Linked DNA regions of Homo sapiens: region 2 is linked to region 1. Evidence: fine-mapped expression QTL. A gene starts in region 1. The other region holds a variant in brackets. All regions are shown on one strand. Distances are from middle to middle.

What was found. PIP is the estimated chance that this variant, and not a neighbour inherited with it, causes the effect.
Region 2: its variant is the best candidate, but not a certain one, in a credible set for the expression of PEX6 in whole blood (INTERVAL, PIP 0.80).

What each region holds. Positions count from the first base shown.
Region 1 is chr6:42,977,419-42,981,804 of GRCh38, reverse strand. It overlaps PEX6 (peroxisomal biogenesis factor 6), which reads left to right and starts at 2,624. Exons shown (of 17, transcript NM_000287.4): 1 at 2,624-3,536. The coding sequence starts at 2,655. LOC124900215 (a long non-coding RNA gene) reads left to right here. Exons shown (of 2, transcript XR_007059580.1): 2 at 962-1,263. RefSeq lists silencers at 365-583, 1,822-2,018, 2,673-3,052 and enhancers at 2,213-2,262, 2,423-3,364.
Region 2 is chr6:43,084,690-43,089,075 of GRCh38, reverse strand. The region is part of intron 1 of PTK7 (protein tyrosine kinase 7 (inactive)); the gene reads right to left. Among named protein-coding and RNA genes, the nearest start is that of PTK7, 11 kb to the right of the region's middle. The variant G/A (reference allele first, on the strand shown) is at 2,521.

The sequences.
Region 1 (4,386 bases):
ATGTAGGGTCCTGGCGATCTTACAGAAGTAGTATTTGGCTTTCGGTGACTAATGACGATTTCAGGGTAACACAAAGTGGACTACATGCCCGCTGTTACCTGCTGGGAGAAAAGCTTGGGAGAAAAGGACATTTATTTGTGGGTGGGTATTTGTGTCTGTATGAGTGCTGATCCAGGCAAGATAACTGATGTTTTTACCCATCTCCAAGGCCTCAAGGAGCACTATAGTCCTGAGGCCTAGAGCTTGCCTGCTACTGAGGAAAGCAGGCATATCCTCTTTAGGCCCATGTACCATCTATCTAGCCCTTGGTTCCTCTGGGACATAGGGGACCAAGAAACATATAGTAGCACTACCAAATGGGAACTTTCATCCATGTGAATCTAGGTACCTAGAACATTCTTTATTTAGTTTTTTTTTCTTTTAATTTTATATATTTTAAGAGACAAGGTCTTGCTCTGTCACCCACTTGGAGTGCAGTGGCACAATCATAGCCTCAAATTCCTGGGTTCAAGTGATCCTTCTGCCTCAGCCTCCCCATAGCTGGGATTATAGACACAAGCCATGGTTCCTGGTTAGTACATTCTTGCATGCTATTTTATTTATTTTTTTCTATTATTTATTTTTTTGAGACGGAATCTCACTCTGTCACCCAGGCTGGAGTGCAGTGGCGCAGTCTCGGCTCACTGCAAGCTCTGTCTCCCGGCTTCACGCCATTCTCCTGCCTCAGCCTCCCGAGTAGCTGGGACTACAGGCACACACCACCATACCCAGCTAATTTTTGTATTTTTAGTAGAGACGGGGTTTCACCATGTTGGCCAGGCTGGTCTCAAACTCCTGGCCTCAAGCAGTCCACCCACTTGGCCTCCCAAAGTGCTGGGATTACAGCCATGAGCCACTGCGCCCAGCCCCTTATAATATGCAAATCTAATAGTTTTCATATATTTGTCTTTCAAATTTTCAGGAATGTATAATGTACAAAATAGAAGACTGCCTCAAGAAGAAAGGAGAGATGGAGAAAGCTGAGCAGTAGCTGAAAGAGAATGTAAGGTCTAGAAAATGGAGATTGGCACCATCCAATTCATTTATTGTAAGTGAAAATAATTGTTAATAATTGGAAATGCAGTGGGACATGATGGCTTATGCCTGTAGTCCCAGCACTTTGGGAGGCTGAGGCCTGAGGATCTCTTCAGACCAGGAGTTTGAGACCAGCCTAGGCAACACAGAGAAACTCTGTCTCTACAAAAAATAAAAAATTAGTCCAGGCGCAGTGGCTCATGCCTGTAATCCCAGCACTTTGGGAGGCGTAAGCAGGTGGCTCACTTGAAGCCAGGAGTTCGAGACCAGCCTGACCAACAGGGTGAAACCCCGTCTCTACTGAAAATACAACATTAGCTGGGTGTGGTGGCACACACCTGTAATCTCAGCTACTTGGGAGGCTGGGGCAGGAGATTCTTTGAACCTGGGAAGCGGAGATTGCAGTGAGCTGAGATCGTGCCATTGCACTCTGGCCTGGGCAACAAGACCGAAACTCCGTCTCAAAAAAAAAATTGGCTGGGTATGGTGGCGTGTGCCTGTGGTCCCGGCTACAGTTACTCGGGAGGCTGAGGTGGGAGATCACTTGAGCCTGGGACGGTAGAAGCTGCAATGAATGGGGATCGTGCCACTGTACTCCAACCTGGGTGACAGAGTAGGACCCTGTTGCCATAAAAAAGGAAATGTGGCCTACCACTAGCTGAGTGTCTTGTACAGAACAGTGGAGGTGAAGAGAAGGATGGAATCTAAATAACAGCACACGCAGGAAGTCGACTGTTGGTGTTATGCTGACAGAAGCCTTGAACTCCTTTCCTTCTGCCTGCTCTGCTGCCTGCCCCGCTCTAGGATAGAAAGTGAATGGGTTTCCGATCTGCAAGGATTTGGGGGGGGGGGGTGAAAGAAAAGCTGTTTTGTCTTCAACTTAAGTTTGGTGGGAGTAAAACAAACAGAACAATGAACAGGGCAAGAAGTCCTGGAACATGGGTTTTGTGCCAGATGTGCTGGAACATGTGTGGTGGCACCAAGCACTCCAGGGCTGTATGAATCACATCTAGTAATTCACTCAGCAGCCACTATATACCTATAAGCAAGTGTGAGACAGTTTTCTAATCCTGCTACTCCCTCCTGCAACCTTTCCTGCAACCCTCAAACCTCAGTGCTCACAGTTCCACAGGGGAAGCTGCAGGAGCTCCGCAGAGGAGCGGACTCCTTCCGAAACATTTCACCTAGAGCTCCCAGTACTGGGCCCAGTCATCCCGAGCATGCTGACTGTTCATTTATCAGTCAATAAACTGTTACGTTCATGCCACGGGGAAAAATAGTTAAGAGAACATTACTTCCGTAGAAGGCAAAGATAAATCCCTTAAGCACAAGTTCAAATGGCGCATGGGTAAACGCTACGCAACCGCAGCGATGAAGGTTACTGCCTATCGAGGCACGACGCAGATCAATCCGAGGCGCAGCTAACCCCCTCAGAGCAAGTTCGCGGCACCCGACCCCCCTCCCCTTTTCCTCTGGCCTCCCCTGACGGAAGCGGAAGCGGCCCTCGCGCACACTAGTCGTCTGGCTCTCTGGCTCCGGAAGCTGCGCTCCTTCACCCTCCTCGTTGGTGTCCTGTCACCATGGCGCTGGCTGTCTTGCGGGTCCTGGAGCCCTTTCCGACCGAGACACCCCCGTTGGCAGTGCTGCTGCCACCCGGGGGCCCGTGGCCGGCGGCGGAGCTGGGCCTGGTGCTGGCCCTGAGGCCTGCAGGGGAGAGCCCGGCAGGGCCGGCGCTGCTGGTGGCAGCCCTGGAGGGGCCGGACGCGGGCACCGAAGAGCAGGGTCCCGGGCCGCCGCAGCTACTGGTTAGCCGCGCGCTGCTGCGGCTCCTGGCACTGGGCTCCGGGGCCTGGGTGCGGGCGCGGGCGGTGCGGCGGCCCCCGGCGCTAGGTTGGGCACTGCTTGGCACCTCGCTGGGGCCTGGGCTCGGACCGCGAGTCGGGCCGCTGCTGGTGAGGCGCGGAGAGACCCTCCCAGTGCCCGGACCGCGGGTGCTGGAGACGCGGCCGGCGTTGCAAGGGCTGCTGGGCCCAGGGACTCGGCTGGCTGTGACTGAGCTCCGCGGGCGGGCCAGACTGTGTCCAGAGTCTGGGGACAGCAGTCGGCCCCCACCCCCGCCCGTGGTGTCCTCCTTTGCGGTTTCTGGCACAGTGCGGCGACTCCAGGGAGTTCTGGGAGGGACTGGAGATTCACTAGGGGTGAGCCGGAGCTGTCTCCGTGGCCTTGGCCTCTTCCAGGGCGAATGGGTGTGGGTGGCCCAGGCCAGAGAGTCATCGAACACTTCACAGCCGCACTTGGCTAGGGTGCAGGTCCTAGAACCTCGCTGGGACCTCTCTGATAGACTGGGACCCGGCTCTGGACCGCTGGGAGAGCCCCTCGCTGACGGACTGGCGCTTGTCCCTGCCACTTTGGCTTTTAATCTTGGCTGTGACCCCCTGGAAATGGGAGAGCTCAGAATTCAGGTAGGATAAAGGACTGGGGTCAGGAGTGCTTCCTCTTTCTTATACCCTCTTCTCTGTCTTAGGTAAATTGGAAGATTTAGGACTCGTGCCCCATATCATCCCGGACTTTGAACATAATGTTTCTAGCCGGGCGCGGTGACTCACGCCTGTAATCCCAGCACTTTGGGAGGCCGAGGCGAGCGGATCACTTGGGGTCGGGAGTTCGAGACCAGCCTGACCAACATGGAGAAACCCCGTCTCTACTAAAAAAATGTAAAATTAGCCGGGCGTGGTGGTGCATGCCTCTAATCCCAGCTACTTGGGAGGCTGAAGCAGGAGAATCGCTTGAACCTGGGAGGCGGAGGTTGCGGTGAGCCAAGATCGCGCCATTGGACTCCAGCCTGGGCGATAAGAGTGAAACTCTGTCTCAAAAAAAAAAAAAAAAAAGCATAATGTTTCTTAGCCTCATTTATCTATTTTCTTTTTCTTTCTTTCCTTTTTTTTTTTTTTTTTTTTTTTTTGAGATGGGGTCTTGCTCTGTCACCCAGGCTGGAATGTGGTGATGCGATCTCGGCTTACTGCAACCTCCGCCTCCCAGGTTCAAGCGATTCTCCTGTCTCAGCCTCCTACTACTGGCTCGCGCCACGACGCCCGGCTAATTTTTGTAATTTTTAGTAGAGACGGGGTTTCACCGTATTGGTCAGGCTGGTCTCGAACTCCTGACCTCAGGTGATCCACCCAAAGTGTTGGGATTACAGGCGTGAGCCACCTCACCCGGCCTATTGATCCATATTCTGTAATCAAAATATCATAAGCCTCCATAATGTAGTGGGGCATACAAAAGGCTTTCATCCATTCAGGTGAAAGGTGA
Region 2 (4,386 bases), 110 kb before region 1:
ATCATTAGGCCCCTACTATGAGGCAGGGCCTGGAGCACCAAGCGTGGGCACATCTACCTACACAAAAGTAGTATGAGGTGGCTAACTCTATTAACCACTATGGGGATGACTCTATTACCTCCTACGTGGTCTCCACCACAGCACTGCTCAGCATACATCTCCCAGCAGGAAGCAATAGTCTGGAATGCACCTACAAGCCAGGGCCTGCAACTGCCTGTGACCTTCCAGCAGCACCAGGAGGAGGAGGCTAAGGACTCATGGGTTCATGAGAAAAGCTCAAGCCATCGGGATTTAGGCACAGTGTTCTAGCCTTTTAGATTACATATAGTTTCACCATAACTCTTTATTTATTTATTTATTTATTTATTTATTTATTTATTTATTTTGAGATGGCGTCTCACTCTCACCCAGGTTGGAATGCAGTAGCATGATCTCAACTCACTGCAACCTCTGCCTCCCAGGCTCAAGCCATTCTCCTGCCTCAGCCTCCCGAGTAGCTGGGATTACAGGCATGCACCACCACAGCTGGCTTATTTTGTGTTTTTAGTGGAGACTGGGTTTCACCATGTTGGTCAGGCTGGTCTTGAACTCCTGACCTCATGATCCACCCGCCTCGGCCTCCCAAAGTGCTGGGATTACAGGTATGAGCCACGGCAATTGGCCACGTGTGCAGCATATCATAGCACAGTAACACCTGGACATACAAGGACTCTAAGTGAAGGCACAGGAGGGACTGGCACTCTGGTCTCAGCTTTCTACCTTTGTTTTTTGAGACAAGGTCTCTCACTGTTGCCCAGGCTGGAGTGCAGTGGTGCAATCTTGGCTCACTGTAGCCTTGACCTCCCAGGTTCAAGTGATCCTCCCACCTCAGCCTCCCAAGTAGCTGGGATCACAGGCACGTGCCACCGCTGCTGTCTAATTTTTCTTTTATTTTCTATTCCGTAGAGATGGGGTCTCGCTATGTTCCCCAGGCTAGTCTCAAATTCCTGGGCTCAAGCAATCCTCACGCCTTGGCCTCCCAAAGTGCTAGGATTACAGGTGTGAACCACCACACTGGCTTCAGCCCTATTCCTCACCAGCTCTGTAGTGCTAGGCAGATCGTACTTTTGTGCCTCAGTTTCTTTCCCTGTCAAATACTCTCCCTCCTAAATCTTTACAGCACCCTTTGCACCCAGAAAATTATACCCTAATACCCACATCACCAGTTGGTCAAGTCTAAACACATCTGTGCCCACGCACTAGAGACTCCAGAATAAAAAGCAGCCCTTAGATTAAAGTGCTCTCCCTAAACCCAGGGTAAGGAGAGCCTGTAAGGTGTGGCAGAAACAAGGCTGGAGATGCCACACTGAGTGAGCCTCAGCAAGGGCCCTCCAAGGTCTTCTGTTCTGAAGTTGAAGCCTGGAGAAGAGGATGGGACCTGCCCATGGTCACACAGGCAGTTTTAGGCAAATGTGGAAGGAGAGTCCATGTCTTCCAACACTGACCCTAGTGCTCCTCCTGGTGCTTCCTCAGGCTCAAGAGGTATGAACATCACCAGGATACCCAGCGCTGGAGCTCAGCAAGACCCAAGACCTGCCTTTGGGACTGAGGTCCTGCCACTTCTCTTGCAGGAATTCCTCTAAATCAGGAATGCCCACACACTTTACCTGGAGACCCTAGTGTCCCCAGGGAGAGAGGAAACAAGAGAAAGGAAAACTGAAAGCTCCTAAATAAAATGTGAAATAAACTCTGCGGCCCACTCTTCCCAAGGATTCTGCCAGCCTTCCACACCAATTATCACATAAGGCTAGGAGCCTGTATCTGCAAGACAGCAAAATCCTCTCACAGGGAAGGGGCCCAGAAATAGGTCAAGACTTCAGCAGCCACAGATATACAATGTGGGGTGGGTACAGTAATGGGGCTCCACCCTCACCGGCTTCTCCTATTGTATGTTACAGGCAGGATTGCCCCATCCCACCACCATAGGAGGCAGAACAGTAGTGAAGAGGGCTCACTTGAAACATGACTTTAGAACAGAGGCATCAAAATCATCTTGGCCCATCAGCTGGGAAACAAAGAGCCACAGCTGCAAGGCCTTCATGCCAATGGAACAGCCACCTTTGACTGTACAGGTTGTGCACTGCTCAAGATGTCTGACCAAAGAGTCAACACTGAAATACTGCCTGAACCCTGGTGCAGGACTGCATCTACCTGGAGGAAGGGTTTTTTTGTTGTTGTTTTTTTGTTTTTTTGAGATAGGGTCTCGCTCAGGTGCCCAGGCTGGAGTGCAGTGGTGCAATCACATCACAGCTCACCCACTTCAGCTCTGACCTCCCAGGCTCAAGCAATCCTCCTGCCTCAGCCTTTGAGTAGCTGAGACTACAGGCGTGCACCACCACACCCAGCTAGTTTTTTTGTATTTTTTGTAAAGACAGGGTTTCATCTTGTTGCCTAGGCTGGTCTCAAACTCCTGAGCTCAAGTGATCCACTTGCCTCTGCCTCCCAAGTGCTGGGATTACAGGCGTAAGCCACTGCGCCCAC[G/A]ACTGGGAGTACTTATTTGTAATGTGCACAAAGGTACCATACGAGCTAGCTGCTGGGACACCTCAGCAGTCCCAAAGCAGACAAGCGTTCCCCTCATTGCCCCGCCACCACCCCAAGGAGGAGACAAAAAAAAAAAAAAGCCAGAGTGTCTCCTGGAGGGGAGGTTGTACATGATAGTGCCCATGCGGGCCCCCATAACCACCCCCAGGGAGAGCCCACTGCCCTTGGCCACACAGAATCTCAGGAACCTCCCCACAGCACAGACAGAAGTTCCCACAAATTAACAGAGTCGCTGACTGGGGAAACCCCCACAGTCATCCAGTGATTATAAAAACCCCTCCCTTGGGTATCATAAAAGTCTGCCTAGGCTGCCTGAAGCACAGTTCACTACCCACTCCCTGAGAACCTCAGCATGCCAGGAGAGACAGTGGCCCTGAACCAGCACCAACCCACCCCTTGGGAGAATCTGCTATTGAGACAAAGAGAGAGGGAGAATTCCCACCAGGAAAATGTGGCTGTGTGTGGCTCCCACATTTCTGGGCTGCTGTTGGAATACTGAGACCCATTTAGAAAACTTGTGCTTTTGAATGAGGAAGCCATGTTTTTTTTTTTTTTTTTTTTTGAGACAGAGTTTCGCTCTTGTTGCCCAGGCTGGAGTGCAGTGGCGCAATCTCAGCTCACCACAACCTCGGCCTCCCGGGTTCAAGCGATTCTCCTGCCTCAGCCTCCTGAGTAGCTGGGATTACGGGCATGCGCCACCACACCCGGCTAATTTTATATTTTTACTAGAGATGGGGTTTCTGCATTTTGGTCAGGCTGGTCTCGAACTCCCGACCTCAGGTGATCCACATGCCTCAGCCTCCCAAAGTGCTGGGATTACAGGCGTGAGCCACCGCACCCAGCCCAAATGAGAAAACCATTTCTAAGGCTGCTAGTCAAGAGGGACTTTGTTGAGCCTTTGGCAAACCATTCTAGGGTCCGAAGGCTGGAAATAAAGGCTGACACCTCTGGCCAGGCACAGTGGCTTATGCCTGTAATCCCAGCACTTTGGGAGGCTGAGGCAGGTGGATCACGAGGTCAGAAGTTCAAGACCAGCCTGACCAATATGGTGAAACTCCGTCTCTACTGAAAATACAAAAATTAGCCGGGCATGGTGGCGGGCACCTATAATCCCAGCTACTCGGGAGGCTGAGGGAGGAGAATGGCGCGAACCCGGGAGGTGGAGATCGCACTACTGCACTCCAGCCTGGGCGACAGAGAGAAACTCCATCTCAAAAAAGAAAGGCTGACCCCTCAAAAGGAAACGGCTGGCCAGGACAGTCTCTGGGAAGAACCATCAGGGCTAGCCAGAGGGGCTGCTTCCCAGGGGTCACCCATTTCCACAGTTGAAGAGCATTATATCACAACTTCACAGGGGCCAGCAAGGCAGGCAACAGCATCACTTGCATTGTGCTCACGAGGAAACTGAGGCTCAGAAAGGTTAACTAACCAGCTCAGGGTCATGTGGGTATGCAGCAATTGAGCCAGGACCAGAATACAGAAAAACTGGTGTCACAGGTCTATAGATGTCTCTTCTATTACTTCATCACTTGTGGCTGCCATGTGATATTAGAACAGTACCACCCAGGTTTTCAGAATCCTGGTCCGATGACTTTACATCATTCTGAGGCCGTCACTGACTACATCTATTCATCATTCTGAGGCCGTCACTGACTACATCTATTCAGCAATGTAGGGTCTTCTCTCCTCTCTGAAGCCCTCCCACCCCCTATTTGCTCCTACATCTCAGACTTACCATCCCACACATTCTAGAATGTTCTTCTATTCTACTTAGCACTTTACCAAATGGTGTCTTTCATACTTCAT